2 separate regions of the Homo sapiens genome follow, and region 2 is linked to region 1. Evidence: fine-mapped expression QTL. A gene starts in region 1. The other region holds a variant in brackets. All regions are shown on one strand. Distances are between the middles of the regions.

Region 1 (8,394 bases):
GTCAAGAGATCGAGACCATCCTGGCCAACACAGTGAAACCCCGTCTCTACTAAAAATACAAAAATTAGCTGGGCGTGGTGGCATGCGCCTGTAGTCCCAGCTACTTGAGAGGCTGAGGCAGGAGAATCGCTTGAACCTGGGAGGTGGAGGTTGCAGTGAGTTAAGATCGCACCACTGCACTCCAGCCTGGGCAACAGAGCAAGACTCCATCTCAAAAAAAAAAAAAAACAAAAGAAACTGAAACTTGCCACCCCTGCACTCTCACTCCTCCCTACTTCATTTCCCCCAGAGCATTCATCACCGTCTAACATGTTCTACATTTTGCTAGAATGTAAAACCTCCGAGGACAGGGATTTTTTTGTTGTTGTTCCCTGGTTATCTCCACTGTCTAGGATGGCATCACAGCACATAGGAGGTGCTTAGTAACTATTGCTTTTAATAGCAAAAACCACAATTACTTTTGCACCAAACTAAATACTTGTTAAATTAACAAATTTATATACAGATCTGGTGCCCTGCTAGGTGGTGGAGATATAAAGACCCAGCTGCCTGCCCTCAAAGGGCTCACAGTCTAATGGAGGAGGGGAATAAAGATAAGTAGACCATGCACCAAGGAATGGGGAAAGGGGAGTGGTTTACTAGAGACAGAGTTTCAGTTTTGCAAGATGGCAAAGTTCTGGAGATCTGTTGCAAAACAACGTGAATATACTCAACACTACTGAACTGTACACTTAAAATCCTTAAGATGATACATTTTATGGTAGCTGCTTTTTAACATAATTAAAAATTTTTAAATAACAAAAACAAAGCACCATGGGTAGTAGCTGAGCTGCTGAAAGCACAAAGGTACACCTAGCACAGAGGGAGCCAGCAAGGGGACTTCTGGGAGAAGGCAACAACTGAGAAAAGTCCTGATTCACAGCGTTCAGCACGTGAGGGTGCTCCATGCAGAGGGAACAGCAGGGACAAAGGCAAGAGCGCACAGAGAACCCCATCAGTGAGACCTGGTTGGGTCACAGCGAGAAGGGTGAGGGGTAAGGCTGGAGAAGTGGCCAGGGACTGGAGGTTGGGGAGCCTAGGGCTTACCCAGAAGGTGATAGGGAGCCATAGATGACTTTTCAGCAGGGCGATGTTGGTCAGATTTCTAGGGAAGTGTGGAGGCTGAGTTGGAAGGGTGGGGCTAGAGGTCAAGAGACCAGCTGGGAGGCCACTGAGGTGGCAGCAGCCTGAACAGGACCAGGGCAAAGGGAATGCAGGGAAGCATGTGGTTCCAGGGACATTTCCAGGTGGAATGACCAGGTTGTGGTAACTGTTGTCTTAGTTGATCCCAGCTTCTTCATCCTCTGGGGAGGAGGCCGAGTTATTCAAACCTCCAAAGCCCTTGAGGAAGGAGTCAGAGCAGGGTGAGGGCAGCCTTGACGTCACTCCCCAGCCCTCCACTGGCTCTTCCCTCTTTCCCAGTATACTGAATCAGAAAGGCTTTGGGAGAGCTGGGCCCAGCCCCAAGAGAGGAAAACTCGGTAGTGAGCAGAGGCTGCAGTGGGGGCGTGGTGAGAACCAGCCTCCAGGGGCCTCGGTTCTCATGCCCTCAAGGGTCAGAATTAAGTGGGGCAGTTGTTAGCTTCAGAAATCCAGGAGACTCAGTTCAGCCTGGCCCTGAGGGAGAGGCCTAGAGGGGAAGCCAGCCCAGCCGGATCCCTCAGGGCAGCTAGCCCTGAAGTTCTCAGGTCTGCGTGTCCCCAAAGATGTCCTCCTGCTGGTCCTGAAGACAGAACCCTCAGGGACCCGGCCCTGGGGCCCAGGGAATCCAAGGACTAAATCTTGCTGTGGAGGAACAGGGACTTCTGTGCCACCAGCCCCAGGCCTCAACAGCCCCCTGCCACCTTCCCTTTCCTCAGCTGCGCCAGCCCCTACCACCCTCTAAGAACAACCCACAGACCCTTTTTGTTACAGTATCACAATGTTTTTAGCCACCACTCACTTGAAAAACTTTATGTACCACTATTACACTATGTGCTTTGATCACACTGTATGCCATCAACCCCACAAAGTAGATACTATCACTATTCTCATTCTGTAGAGGAAGAAATTGAGGCACAGGGATTTGAGTAACTTGCCTAAGGGTACAGGAGTCAACAGCAAAGTCTCAGCTCCTGGGCTCAGCCACCAACAACGTCTCAGCACTCCGAGGGCAGTGGCCACAGTCTCAGAACCCCACAGCTCCAGGCCCTCGAGCCACACTCATGCCGCCCCTCTACCTAGAATGCTCTTCCCTTCCACTTGGCTAATGGAGGGGGAAAAGCATTTCCTCTCCTCCAGGAAATGTTCCTAACCAAGTCCCCTGGGAATCACCCAGTACCTCTCAGGAGAACTTTCCACATTTATTATCTTACCGTTATCCAAGGGCTGATATGCTCAATCCCTGCACCAGCCAGTGAGGGAGGAGGCCAGAGACCAAGTTTGGCTGGTTCCTCAGGGTATCCCCAGGTCCCCAAGCAGCGTCTGCAGCACAGCAGATGCTCACTGATGCTCATCCACCTGTGATGCCTGAATGCATGAAGGCAGGCTCCGCATAGCCCTTTCATTCCTATGGATGTCCCCCACACCACCCAGCCACCATTTAGAGGCATAAGAACGGGGTCCAAGCTAAAGGTCAGGTGGTTCCCCCACCCCCAGTCTCAAGGAGTCCATGGGAATTGCTTAATGGCCTCTGATTGTGTAGCCTGCCCAGACATGGGGATGTTTGAGAATTCTGGAAGAACGTGGGCTGGGCGTGGATAGAGACGCCTGCTCCACCATGTATGCTGGAGGTGTGGATTACAACCCCTGTCCCCCATTGGAGCTTCCCGCGCCGTAATTAGCCTTGATCGCCTCATCCTGGCACACTAGGGCCAGCCACCTAGCAAATGAGTGGTCCCCACACTCCATCCCCATCCGCCCACCCCTCACAGCCCCGCAGGCCAGTTGCCCAGATCCACAGCCCTTACTGCAACCCCTTCAAATCCAGCCACCCTGAGAGATCCTGGCCTGGGAGAACTCTCCTTCCCTGGCCAAAGAAACGACAGGAGAGTTTACTGTCTGGAATACCTGGTGGAGAGAGAACAGAGGAGAGGAAGGGTAGGTCAGCCCCTCTTGCCCCTCCCCACCGCAAATCACACAGGCCCACCTCCCCGGAGTGGGTTTAGGGAGTCTGCACCTCCCAGTCCCCGCCCCCGCCCTCTCTCCAGCGCCCGCCGCCCTCCCCGTCGCGTTTCCTGCCCCCACCCCGCCCCTCTGCGCTATTTAAGGCGCCCCCGCCGCTCGTGCGGTCCAGCAGGGCTCCCGCGGGCGTCACTCCGGCCATCGTCCCCACCTCCACCTGGGCCGCCCGGCAGGCAGGCGGTGAGTCGGGGGCTAGGAAGGGACCAGGGGCGCCACCTGCTCGCGGGAGGCCGGGAGGAGTCTTGGGTCCTCCGATGCCGGGACGGGGGTTGCTGCGGAACGCCCGCCGCGACAGAGCCGCGCTCACCCAGGTGGCCTTGGCCAGGCTCCCACCCTCTTTCCATGGAATCCTTGTAACAACCCGAGGCGGGAGGAATACTATTGTTTCCACTCTATCGTGGAGGAGACTGAGGGGCCCAGAGGTTGTTCCTTATCCAAGGGGCCGCAGTTACTAAAAGGCAAGATTTGAACCCAGGGCCGCTTCCAGAGCCTGGCTCTAAACAGCTTTGCACTTGGGAAGAGGCACCTCCCCCTTGGGAACTTTGTGGCCTGTGCCTCACCCTGCAATGACAATTCCTTTCAAGAGTCTAGAATTTGCCAGCATCAGCTTTGGAGGTGGAAGGGGGTGGGAGTGGAGGTGGAGGAAGAAGACAGGACCAAATGTCCCTCCTCAAGTGGCAGGTGGTCATTATTGCTGACCGGTGGAGCTAAAGGATGATGCTGCCTTCAGCTCCTAAAACCCCTTCCACTACCCAGCCCCTGCAGGCTCAAAGATTAGAGTGAAGCCAGCTGGGTAAGATATGAGGCGGGGAGCAGGGACCTGAGGCTTTGAGCCCCCTAAGAAGCAGAAGATAACACCTCTACCATCATCACTAGCTCCCACTGTCTGGGGGTAGCCAGCCTTGGGCAAAAGGGAGGAAGGGCTTAGCCCAGCTGCACAACTTTGGATAAGTTCCTCAAATTCTGTTCCCATAGGCAAAGGAGCCTCAACTCCACCCAGATTTCCTTGGCCTGTGTCCATCCTGGGGCAGTGGCTCGGGGACAAGAGGGACATAGATGTCTGATTAGGCAGGGACCTTAGCCAAAGCAGAATGAGACCATACAAAGAGGTGGGCAGCCATCATCCAAAAATCTGGGTTGGGTCCTGCCTGCACTGCTGAGTGGGAGCCTCCAGGCCAGTCCTTCCCCTTCCTGAGCCTGGGTTTCTTTGTAGGTAGAACGGGCGTGGCAGACCTCCCTGCAGGCTTGTTGCTGGGCGAACGAGAAGGATGCCATGCTGACACACTGACGTGCTCTGTCTCCTTGCAGACGGAGGCCCGGGAGCCATGGGTGACTGGGGCTTCCTGGAGAAGTTGCTGGACCAGGTCCAGGAGCACTCGACCGTGGTGGGTAAGATCTGGCTGACGGTGCTCTTCATCTTCCGCATCCTCATCCTGGGCCTGGCCGGCGAGTCAGTGTGGGGTGACGAGCAATCAGATTTCGAGTGTAACACGGCCCAGCCAGGCTGCACCAACGTCTGCTATGACCAGGCCTTCCCCATCTCCCACATCCGCTACTGGGTGCTGCAGTTCCTCTTCGTCAGCACACCCACCCTGGTCTACCTGGGCCATGTCATTTACCTGTCTCGGCGAGAAGAGCGGCTGCGGCAGAAGGAGGGGGAGCTGCGGGCACTGCCGGCCAAGGACCCACAGGTGGAGCGGGCGCTGGCGGCCGTAGAGCGTCAGATGGCCAAGATCTCGGTGGCAGAAGATGGTCGCCTGCGCATCCGCGGAGCACTGATGGGCACCTATGTCGCCAGTGTGCTCTGCAAGAGTGTGCTAGAGGCAGGCTTCCTCTATGGCCAGTGGCGCCTGTACGGCTGGACCATGGAGCCCGTGTTTGTGTGCCAGCGAGCACCCTGCCCCTACCTCGTGGACTGCTTTGTCTCTCGCCCCACGGAGAAGACCATCTTCATCATCTTCATGTTGGTGGTTGGACTCATCTCCCTGGTGCTTAACCTGCTGGAGTTGGTGCACCTGCTGTGTCGCTGCCTCAGCCGGGGGATGAGGGCACGGCAAGGCCAAGACGCACCCCCGACCCAGGGCACCTCCTCAGACCCTTACACGGACCAGGTCTTCTTCTACCTCCCCGTGGGCCAGGGGCCCTCATCCCCACCATGCCCCACCTACAATGGGCTCTCATCCAGTGAGCAGAACTGGGCCAACCTGACCACAGAGGAGAGGCTGGCGTCTTCCAGGCCCCCTCTCTTCCTGGACCCACCCCCTCAGAATGGCCAAAAACCCCCAAGTCGTCCCAGCAGCTCTGCTTCTAAGAAGCAGTATGTATAGAGGCCTGTGGCTTATGTCACCCAACAGAGGGGTCCTGAGAAGTCTGGCTGCCTGGGATGCCCCCTGCCCCCTCCTGGAAGGCTCTGCAGAGATGACTGGGCTGGGGAAGCAGGTGCTTGCTGGCCATGGAGCCTCATTGCAAGTTGTTCTTGAACACCTGAGGCCTTCCTGGTGCCCACCAGGCACTACGGCTTCCTCTCCAGAATGTGGCTTTGCCTGAGCACAGACAGAGTCAGCATGGAATGCTCTTGGCCAAGGGTACTGGGGGCCCTCTGGCCTTTTGCAGCTGATCCAGAGGAACCCAGAGCCAACTTACCCCAACCTCACCCTATGGAACAGTCACCTGTGCGCAGGTTGTCCTCAAACCCTCTCCTCACAGGAAAAGGCGGATTGAGGCTGCTGGGTCAGCCTTGATCGCACAGACAGAGCTTGTGCCGGATTTGGCCCTGTCAAGGGGACTGGTGCCTTGTTTTCATCACTCCTTCCTAGTTCTACTGTTCAAGCTTCTGAAATAAACAGGACTTGATCACAAGTAGGTGTGTATTGATGCTATCATGATGTGCTGGGGGTTGGGGGATAGAGTTATTTTGCCCAGGCTTCCTTTACTTCTTGGTCCTGTATAATCTCTTTGGTCTCTATAACCCCCGATTCCAGCCAACACCTTGAACCCTCAAACTCATACCTTCTGCCTCCAACAGCCCTGATTTCTAAATGCTCTGCCTTTTGAAATGCCTCAGACACTATCTTCTTTTCATCCCCACTGCTCCAGCGCATTAATCAGTGGTCAAAGCATAAACGTCCTTGCCCTCCCTCCCCCATGCCCATCGTCGCCCTGGCCACACTGCCCCCTGCAAAGTGCTTCCTTACTGGATGGTTTGCTCTCCAAGCGTGCCTGCCAGCCAAGCCCTTCGCAGTCCAGTTCAGATGGGCCCTGCACTCATCCCACCTCATCCTCATCCTTGGTATTTGGGAAGGGAGGTTTAGGTCACTAGTCCTTCCTACCTTGGCCCTTTCTAGTCTGCCCACCAGGAGAAGCAACTGAAGGATTTGCTTCATATCTGCTCTCCATGCACCCAGACCTCAGTGAGGACAATGGCAATGTACAGAAGTGGAAGAGACTGAATCTTGCCAATGAGCCACAAAGGCTGCAGAAACAAAATGAACAATTGAACTGGGTCTTGACTAGGAGTTCACTGGGGAGGGAAAGAGAACACTGAGCATTCAAGCGGAGAAAACTGTTTGTGCAAAGTCAGAGGAGGGATTGACAGGCTGAGGGGGCATTTAGGTCCTGATGAGCCACCTAGATACAGGAGGCGTGGCTGAGGATGGGCCCACTGCTGGCAGAATTGACCTATGTGGAGGCGACCCAGGTAGGGGAGAGCACTAGGTAGTGACCCTCAGAGGCAAGCTGGTTGTCCTCCCTTCCCAGGGACATCTGGGGCTAGGGTTGAAGAAGGAAAGGGGGTCTCTCTGATGTGGCCACATGCTTCTCCTTGAGAGCCACAATGCCTTCACAGCAGGTTGGCAAGTTGGCCCCTCTCCCATCAGGATGGGTGTTGAAAACACCAGCTCTGTACCCCTCATCCAGAGCTCATTCGCTCACTCGCTGCTTACCCAGCGAGTCTGAATGCTCAGCCTAATAAATTACGACCCTCTTCCTTTTCCAGCTGTGGTTCCCATTGTTCCCTCTGAATCGCTGAAATCGATCAGGCCAGCTTCCTCATGGCTCCCAGATTCACCCAGTATGTTCCCACCCTGCCCCTGTGTCAGCATGCAGCGTCCCTGCCCCCCACACTTCGAAACTCCACAAATCCTTTAAATACTACTGGACCCTGGAAAAGGGCTTGGTGCGGAAGAGTGAGATGAGCTTATCACCAGAGGGCCCTGAATTTAAATGCTGTGGTCTGGAGTCAATCATTTCGCTTCTCTGAGTCTCAGTTTTCTAACCTCTAAAATGCAAATAACATCACCTGCCTCACAACTGACTGGAAACCAAATAAGTGAAAGTATGTGACTGTGCCTGGCTCAGTAGTCATGCAGTAAAATTAAGCTCACACCTTTCAGCCAGACTAACATAGGCTCTTCCTCCAGGAAGCGCTCTCTGACTTCTCCAGCTAGTCTCCGGCAATGACCTCTACCTCTCAGGGATCTGAACCACTGCTTGATTGAGTGAGGCTGGGCTCAATCCTGAAAGCCTCAAAAAGGAGGCTGTTCACATACTGGAAGTCCATGACCACTGGAAGTTGAGGTCCCTGTCTAAGAGATTCTCCTCCAGCCAGGGTGAGAGGCCAGAGGCTGCAGGTTAGAAGCCAGCGTTAGAGCCAGCATTACCTGAGGGGCTTCAGAGCCCTGGTTTGGTGTTTCTGTTATCCCCAACCTTTCCTACTTTGGAAAGGTAGGAGAAGAAAGGTTTCAGTGAGCAGAAATGGCATCCTTCCCCTCCCTCAAAGCTCACCCACTCTGAGCTTGGTGTCAGAGCCGGGGTCAGGCTGGGGCTCAGGAACTTGGACCTTTGGCAAGACAAGTTGGGTCCTAGACTGGCGGCCACACAAACACAAGCACATATGGGCTGGGGGTTTAAGAGTGAGGACAGTGTCATGGGGCTGGGATCACACCATTTGGGTTGGGGGTATGGTGAAGACTTTATGGAGAGAAGAGTGGCTGTAAGCCCCATCCCACCTGTATTCCCTTGCCAAGGCTACTGTACCAAAGTACCACAGACTGCACGGCTTAAGCAACAGAAACTGATTCTCAGTTCTGAAGGCCAGAAGTCTGAGATCGAGATATCCGAAGGGCTGGTTCCTTCCGAGGGCTGTGAGGGAGACTGTTCCAGGCCTCTCTCCCAGCTCTGGTGTTTTGCTGGCAA
Region 2 (8,258 bases), 50 kb after region 1:
GAGGTAAGAATTGGTGGTGGGGCAGTTGCCAGTGTCTTTGGAAACCTGGTGCCTGTGGACCACCTTTCTCACACAACTTCACACGGGCAGGGAGGGAAAGAGGAAGAGATCAGATAGGGGACAAGAGAACAGCTTATTCTGTGCTAGAGAACAAGAGAGTGACCCCAGGCTTGAATGAAAAGGGCTAGGAGACTTCAGAAGCAACCTGGATGGTTGATCACTACTCAGACACCCCAGTGTGGCCTTGTGCGGCCATTTCTCTTTTCTTTGCCTCAAGATCTACAACTCTGAAACGAGCAATGGGAGCAGAACATACTCTGGGCTACAGACCCTGATCCCTCCCAAGTTTGGGGAAAACTTGGCCTCACACGTGATCCCAGATAGGCTCCTAACCTTGGCACCTGCCAAGCTCCTATGAACTCTAATTGCTGTGACGTCTGGGAACCCCCCCATGGTAGGCCAGCCTACAGGGCCTTCCTAGACCTGTCCAACAGCCATGGCCTCAGGTGCCAGGCTTGCTGAGCCTCCACTGTTGGTACAGCTGATGGGAAAGGACAGGAAGCTGGGACGTGGGCAGGGAGGGTGAGTTACTCCAAATACAAGATCCAGCCCAATGCTGGTATCTTGAGGCCAGTTTGATGTGCAGAGCAGACAGATTTCAGAATTGGGGTTTCAGGAAACAGACATGTTCAGAGCAGGAGCCCAGTCCAGAGCTTAGGAGTACAGACACCCAGCCCCATTCCTCCAAGGGGAGCAGAGGGGGATGCTGACAAGGCTAGTCAGAGTGTCAGGAAGCAAAGCAGGGCTGATAAACTGTATAAACTGGGAATATGCAGCTGAGGTTGGATGGCTTTGGTCCAGGGGTGCCCAGGACTCATGCACACCAGGCTGTTGGCAACAAAGCTAATAATTCCAGAGCCCAGCAGCCCACGAAGGCTCAGGGAGCAGCCTGGTTAAGAGTGGTAGGATCGGTGCCTGCAGCAGAGGAGGGAGAGACTACGAGCCACATGCCACAACTACAATCTATGCTTGGGGGATGAGTCTGTCATTGACATCAGGGCAAGGCCATATGATTGTCTATGGTTTCTGTGACAAGGATGGGAGACAAAGGGAAGAGTCTAGAGTGGCAGGTATTGGTATAAAGAGTCCTAGGGCAGTTGTGGCTTCCCTGGGCCTAAGCCGTCACAATTCACACCTGTATAGGGGCCATAGAACACAAGGCAAACTCTGTTAGTCAGTAAGGCCTGGCCATGACCCATCCGTGGAGCACAGGGCCTGCTTGGGCAGCTTTCTCAGTCCAGCCCCAGAGGTTCCTGGCATTTGAGTGTTAGACCAAGTGTGCACTGGATTAACTCTACCAATGGAAGAAGAGAACCAACATCAAGAGTCCAAACCCCATGGACGCTTCAAATAGTAGAGGGATACTATTTTACTCAGTTCTCAGCCAACCAAATCCTTTTTCCTCATTAATTTATTTCCTTCTGCTTATCAGGTTCCATGGTTATATCACACCCTCTCACTCAGCACTATCCAATAGGACATTCTGCAATGATAGAAATGTCTGTCCCCACTGTCTAATACAATAGCCACTAGCCACGTGTGGCTAGTGAGGAGCTAATTTTTCATTTTTGTTCATTTTACTTTAAATAGTCACATGTGGCTAATGGCTACCACAATGAACAGAGGCCTGGTTCTCCTGTGCTGTAGGGCAGTAGGATCCTCAAGTCCAAACACTTAACTATATCTGTACACCAGCAATGATTAGAAAGGGATCTCTGCTCAGGGTAGGGCTGAGTGACAGAGAAAAGAGGAGAAGGGAAAGAAATGGAAGGAAAACGTGACTAGGTGAGGAGCATGTGCATTACCTTATTTTATCTTCACAGAGACCTGCAAAGTAAATATGATTAAGCTCAGATTATAAGTAAAGAGACAGAGACTCAAAGAAGTCAAATAACTTTCCCTGTCACACCATTAGTTAGGGCCAGAGTCAAGATCTGAACCCAAGTGTCTGCCTCCAAAGTCCATGGTTTTCCACCTATCAGACAGCTGAGAAAGAGAGTGGCCTCTTCCTGGCACCGGTGGGTCTCAGAGTTGAGCAGGTCAAATTCATGGGCTGCTAGACAGTTCTCTAACTCATCTCCTCCAGAGCAGGTCTGCCCTGTTACAACTGCATTGATGTGAACTTCCAGAAATCAGACACACCCAGATTCACACATAAGGCCAAAGGCACATGGCCAGAAAAAATGATCTGTGACTGTGCCATCCATTAGTGCAGATAATTAACGGTCTATTTGATCGTCTTGGCATTAAAAAAAAGGCAGAAGTAATGCTTTGTTTGGGCTGATATTAAAATATCTCTTCATACCCCTGCACTCACTAATTCACTTGCTCACTGGCAGACCAGGCAGTAGGGTCAGAAGTGAACTAGAAGGGAAGGAGATGAGGATGGAGAAGGAACTCATATTTCTTAGACATCTAATAAGTGCCAAGTATCAAGCTAAAGACTTCAACAGATTATTTCAAGCAATGATCATCCCTATGAGTCAGTTCTTACTGTCCTCACTTCACAGGAGCAGGACTAAAGCTCAGAGGGGTAGGGTGGTATATGCGCAAAGTTGCACCATTGATAGCAGTGAGGTATGACTTCGAAATCTAGGTCTGCCTGACTCCAAGCCCATGCTATGTCACACTGGCCAATGGCAGAGATCTAGAAAGCCCATCACTGCTAATAAAGTGATGGACCTCCTTTCCAGCTCACTCCGGTATCATGCCTAAAGCCAGGCTTCTGTGTAGCCATCTCATCTCCCAGAAGTTCAGGCTCCCATGAGCAGGAGAGGACCCAACCCCCAACCCCATTGTGCAACCAATGACAATGAGAGCCAGGCGTCCCCTTTCTTACCCACCACTTTCCTCCCCACACCATGGGGTGCTGCCAGTTCAGCACAATAGTGTATTCTGTGTCCAAAAGCCTCTGCTGGCAGCCCCTAGTCTTTTGCAGCCCCTCCAGACAATGGCAGAGCCCAAAAGGCCTGATAGCCGGTGACAAATGTATGTGAATGACCAGCTCACAGGAAGTGGCCTTCAATAGTCCGATAGCTTCCTGTATCCTGACATTGTGAAGGCCCACTTCCTGTGCTGTCTCTGAAAATACAGCAAGTCAAAGCTGGGGGTGGGTCCAGAGGCAGGGTTTCCCTGTCTACCCCCTAGCCCAGGCTCCCCTATAAAACGCAACTCTGTTTGCCTAAGGATGCCACCAGCCAGTCTCACCTGACTTCTGATTCAAGGGTGAATTCCTGGCTGGTCTCTGACCTGTCCCTTCACCTCTTAACCAAACCCCACCCAAGCCCAGTCAGAACAAAATGACCTATTTTTAAAGATTTTACAGGCTTCCTCAGTCTCACCCCCGACCCCCCCTTTCAAGTTCCCAGGCCTTCTCCTGCTGGGAAAGGCTTTCTCATGTCTACTCACATACCTTTGCTGCATACTAAACCCATTTCCGCGTGTCCGCCGGTCACTCTGCCCTGAATGATAACCTTC[G/A]ATAGGTTTACAAATGCTCATTAAGTCACCCTTCAAGTTTATCTTCCCGGAGCCGATAATCACAATGCCTTCAGCTTCCTCCGTGTTACAAAAAGCAAAGCGAAGCAAGACAGCTGGGGAAGCAGGGAGGCCTCCTTTATCTCTGGCTCCAGCTGGACTCAGGAAAGGCTCTCCCAGGTTGTGCCTCCCCACAGCACCTTGCCTCCCAGCACAAGCTGGCCCAAAAGATCAAGCGCACCTGCCAATTACCAGGAAAGCAGGGGCAAGAGGGAGAACTGATGTCTTCTATGGAATGAGGCACTATGCTAAGAGCTTTCCCCTCAATTACTTGGTGAAGGAGGTAGTAAATCCCTATATTAAAGACTAGGACGCAGAGAAGCTAAGTGACTTTGCCCACGGTCTCACAGCTAGTGAGGGGGGAGCCATGTGACCCACAGCCTAGTAAGAGGAAGCCCATAGTACCCACAGCCTTGCTTGGCACTGGGAAATGGTTTGGATATGGGGGAATGGGGAGATTACCGTTTGCTCCCTCCTCTCACACCTCCTCTCAGGACCCTCATATCTCACACATGGAAAGTCATCTCCCAACTTCCTAGCATGGGAGAAACAGTGCTGGAGAGGAGCAGGTGGCTGCACCCAGTCCCGCCAGCAGCCTGTCTCTGAGCATTGTTCTCCACGGTCAACAATGACGGCACTGAATTAGCCTCAGGCCATTGTGGTTGCTGGGGTAGGAGACGTAGTGGGGGTGGGGGATACAGGTCAAGAGGTGACAACCCATTCATTCCCTCCTAGTCATTGGAGATCTGAGAGCTGCAGCCCAGTCAGTCAGGAGCCCTGAGCCCAGTGTGTCCAGGAATCAGGGAAAACAAAGAGGTCTCTGGAGATGAAAGGAAAGAGGAGGGGAGGAAGCCCCCACTGACTTTCCCACCCTCCACCCTCCACTGTCCAAGGGGAAGAAAGGCCAAGGGCACAGTGAAGCTGGGAGGAACAGCCAGCTTCACTGGAAGTAGACCAGAGCTCCAAAGCCTGCAGACCTAGGCTTCGCTCCCAGCACAACCACTCGCTCAACGTGCGATTCAGTTACTTAGCCCCTGAGTCTCAGTTTCCCTATCTATAAAATGGAGAAAACAACCCCTGCTTTGCAGGGCTCTTGAGAGGATTAAATGAGATATCAGAGGCATCCGGCACAACACTCAGCCTAAAGGAGCTCAGTGAGCACAGTTTTCCTTCTCTTCTTTTCTGGGATTTGTCTGCCTTGGGTTCCCAAGACTAATGAAGTCCACAGGAAAAGCAGGGTGGCTGCCTTCTAGCCCTTTTCCAAGAAGCCAGGGAACCTCTGCAATCCTAGGACTCTGTGGACCTGGCTGGGCAGAAGGCAGCAGGCAGCTGGACCTAAAGCATCCATCCTTCCTGCCCCTCCAATGCTGGCTTCTGGGCCTGGGGGGACAAGAGGCCGTGAAAGACCCAGAACTACTGACCCCAGAGGGAGATGTAGGATGCTGGGGGAGGGCAGTGCACCATCAGAGGACCCTGAGATGATCTCTAGCCCACCTAATGGGGCTGCGTGAAAGACTGATGGGGAGGTGGGCTCCAGGGCCAGGCAAAGCACTTACTTGTCATCTGTGGCCAATTCTGACTTCCAGAAAGTTTCTGAGCCACTTCCCTACCCGCCCTCAGCTTTTATCAGAAAACACATGGCACTCAGAGAGGAAAGTCTTTACTAGAATATCAGCCTAAACCAACTCAGTCAGACAAGTAAATCTCCTGGAAAAAATAATAGAAGTGATGTTTGAACTCTCGGTGCTATTTCTAAACCACTCCCTGCCAGGTGGGGTACATGGAGAGCTGCAGAGCTCAGCTAAAACAAAGGTGGCGATGTTACCCCCTTCAAAGTCACTGCTCATGGGGAGAGCCTGGGTCACAGCCTAGAGGCGGAAGGGAGTCGAGGCTCTGATAAGGCAGGGGAAGGACAGGACAGTGCCTGGGGCCTGCTGACTGTTCCTTCACCCCAGAGACCACAGGGATAATCAGCTCACAGAGCCTTCCGGCCTCAGGCATTTAGTTCTCACTCTAGGGCCTCTTGTGGGAGAGAGGGACGAGGACCCAACACCAGCCTCTCCCCAGGGTAGGCTGAGCGCCTCCCCATTAAAGGCTTTGGCTGTAGCCGCTCTCCCGTGCAGAGGTTTCCCCGGCGGCAGCGGCCCGCTTCATGCTGCTGCCGTCTGTCTTTCTGTTACTGCTGAAATGTGTCCCCACAAGATTCATATGTTGAAGTCCTAAACTTCATATTTCTTCATAATATGACTGTATTTGGAGATAGGCTTTTAAAGATAAGATTAAGTTAAAATGTGGCCATTAGGGTGGGCCCTAATCTAACCTGATGGTGTCTTTTTAAGAGGAAATTTGGATACACCAGGAGTGCACAGGCACAGAGAGATACCCATGTAAACAGGCAGCAAAAGGGTGCCCACCTGCAAGCCAGAGAGAGAGGCCTCAGGAAAACCCAATCAAGTTGGCACCTTGATCTTGGACTTCCAGCCTCCAGAACTGTGAGAAAATAAGTCTCTGAGGTCGGTGAGCCACTCTGTGGTGTTTCATTATGGCAGCCCTGACAAACTAAGACACTTCCCCTGTCTGGGGGTCATGAACAAGAGTCTGGGGGACCCCCTCCAACACACTCCCAAGAGCCCCAGTAGCCCGGGCAGGGTCCCCTCAGCTCAGCACCACCCTTAGTCAACCCTCAGCTTCTCCAGCCTCCTCCAGAAATCTCTAACTGCCTGAAGGCCAATCAGTGAGCCAACCAAGGCTGTGTGCAGGTTGGGATTGCTACAAGACACCAAGGCAGTCCAGGAAAGGCCTGGGGACTCAGAGCAGGGACAGTGAGACAGGGGCAGAGAAGCAACAAACAGCACAGCCAACAGGCCTCTGGGCTGAGGATCAGGGTACCCTCATGGTTCCCCAGCTGTCGGCCACAGGGCTACTGTAGGCCTCAGTTTCCCCACTACACTCAGGCACCCTCTCTTAGAGCCCAGAGAGAAATCAGGGTCCTAAAGTGTGGCTAAATGCATAGAATGGAAAAAATACTTCTAATCACAACAACCAACTTTTCCTAGTGCTAACTATATGTGAGCCACTGTTCCAGATGCTTTGGTGTGTTTTCCTTGAATCCTTGCAATAACCCCGTAAGTCATACATTAGCCCCATTTGACACAGAAGACACTGAGAAGAAGCTTGCCAAAGGACTGCAGCTGTAAGAGGCAGTGCTGGGCTTTGAATGGGAGCAGTCTAGCTCCAGAGCTGAGCTTCTTGAGGAGAGCAGATTGCAGGGTGGGAGGTGGGGTGGGGTGGGGTCTGAGCCCATCAAGGCCCCAGCATATATCAGTGAGGTGAGAGCCAGCCAAGGACAGGGCTTTAGGGACAATAGCAGCTGAACAATCCACCTTGTCATCAATCAACCAAATTATAAACACACAGGACTCGCATCTGTGGGAAAGACTGTGACCTCCTACCCTCCCGCACGTGGGGAAAACAGCTTGGAGAGGATCAAAGGGGCAGAGGTACCCCAGGAGTTATTCTTTAGTCTGTGTGCTGGGCAAACAAAACTGGGAGGGGGCAGGAAAAGCAGGCTGCAACCTTCATCAGAGGTAAGTCACATGAGCCACCAGCCAGAGGGGCTGTGGCTATGCCCTACGGCCGGCAGGCACCCAAGAGGGTTTCCCCTCATCGTCAACTCAAGCAAACTGCAGGCCAGAAGCTGACCTTGGTTTGGCATGATGACAAGGTGCAAGCTGGGAAAGGGAGGGGGCATGGGGCCGCCACAGGGCCAGCTCTGCTAAGAATCCCATTATCTTGGGGGAGCCATTTCCCACTCGAGGGGCAGAAGAAGAATCAGTGATTTTCTCTCTTTTATTTGAACTCCTTGGGAATGACAGACAAGTGGAAAGAGGGTTTCATATAAATACAAGAAGGCTTATAGTCTGCTTCTTGAGGAGGTGGGGAAACCAGAGCCTTCCCCATCTCTATTTTCAATGCTTACAGGCTTCACCTACCAGCCCACCCCACCCTCTCAGGCATGTGGCTAGAGGGAAGGCATGAAGGGGAAAATGGAGATAAAACAGAGACACTCCAGAAGCAGTGGCTCCCACAGGATCTCCAGGAAGCCATTCTCACCCCTTCCCAGGATTCCTCAAACCAAAGGGTTGGTCCAAGGGTCTGCCGAGAGGCTGCTGGAGAGCTCCACCTGGTAAGTGCATTAAGAGGATCCCTGGGCCTTGCTGGATTCCTTGGAGTTTTCCCATCCATCCTGCTGAGCTGCTCCAGAGCTTTGATCACTACTACACGAAGGGTTTCCTGAATGCTTTCCTGAGGACATTGTTCCCCACTATAGAGTCATCAGGGTCAAATTCATCATGGGCTATCCTGATCCAGGTCCTACCCAGGAGGAAAATGCAGCCTTCTGCCCAAGCCCCAGTCCCCTAGAAAAATAAGTCAGTAGTTTCTTTTGGTTCATCCCATTACCAGCCTTGGGGAAGGTAACGCTGTAGCAAAACACAGCTGCCATTAGCTCTAAGCTGCCAGGCACCTCAAAGCACACACCTGGCGGCCCTGCTCCCTATCCTTCTAAGAGACCTGTCCCCACACCCAGCCCCAGTACCTGCTCCATCCCAGAATCACACTCCAGGACCTCTTAATTCATTCAACATTTATTGACAATGATCATT

Which allele goes with the higher level. Alleles are on the strand shown, and positions count from the first base shown. SD is a standard deviation of normalised expression in the study named.
In carriers of allele G in region 2, the expression in iPS cells of the gene that starts at base 3,312 in region 1 tends to be lower than with A alone (moderate effect, 0.57 SD a copy in HipSci).

Evidence for each region.
Region 2: its variant is fine-mapped to the expression of GJA4 in iPS cells (HipSci, PIP 0.95).

What each region holds. Positions count from the first base shown.
Region 1 is chr1:34,789,688-34,798,081 of GRCh38, forward strand. It overlaps GJA4 (gap junction protein alpha 4), which reads left to right and starts at 3,312. Exons shown (of 2, transcript NM_002060.3): 1 at 3,312-3,381; 2 at 4,510-6,060. The coding sequence starts at 4,527. The coding sequence ends at 5,528. RefSeq lists an enhancer at 2,370-2,870 and a silencer at 4,575-4,729.
Region 2 is chr1:34,840,118-34,848,375 of GRCh38, forward strand. No RefSeq gene overlaps it. Among named protein-coding and RNA genes, the nearest start is that of SMIM12, 16 kb to the right of the region's middle. RefSeq lists enhancers at 2,278-2,965, 7,089-7,774. The variant G/A (reference allele first, on the strand shown) is at 3,538.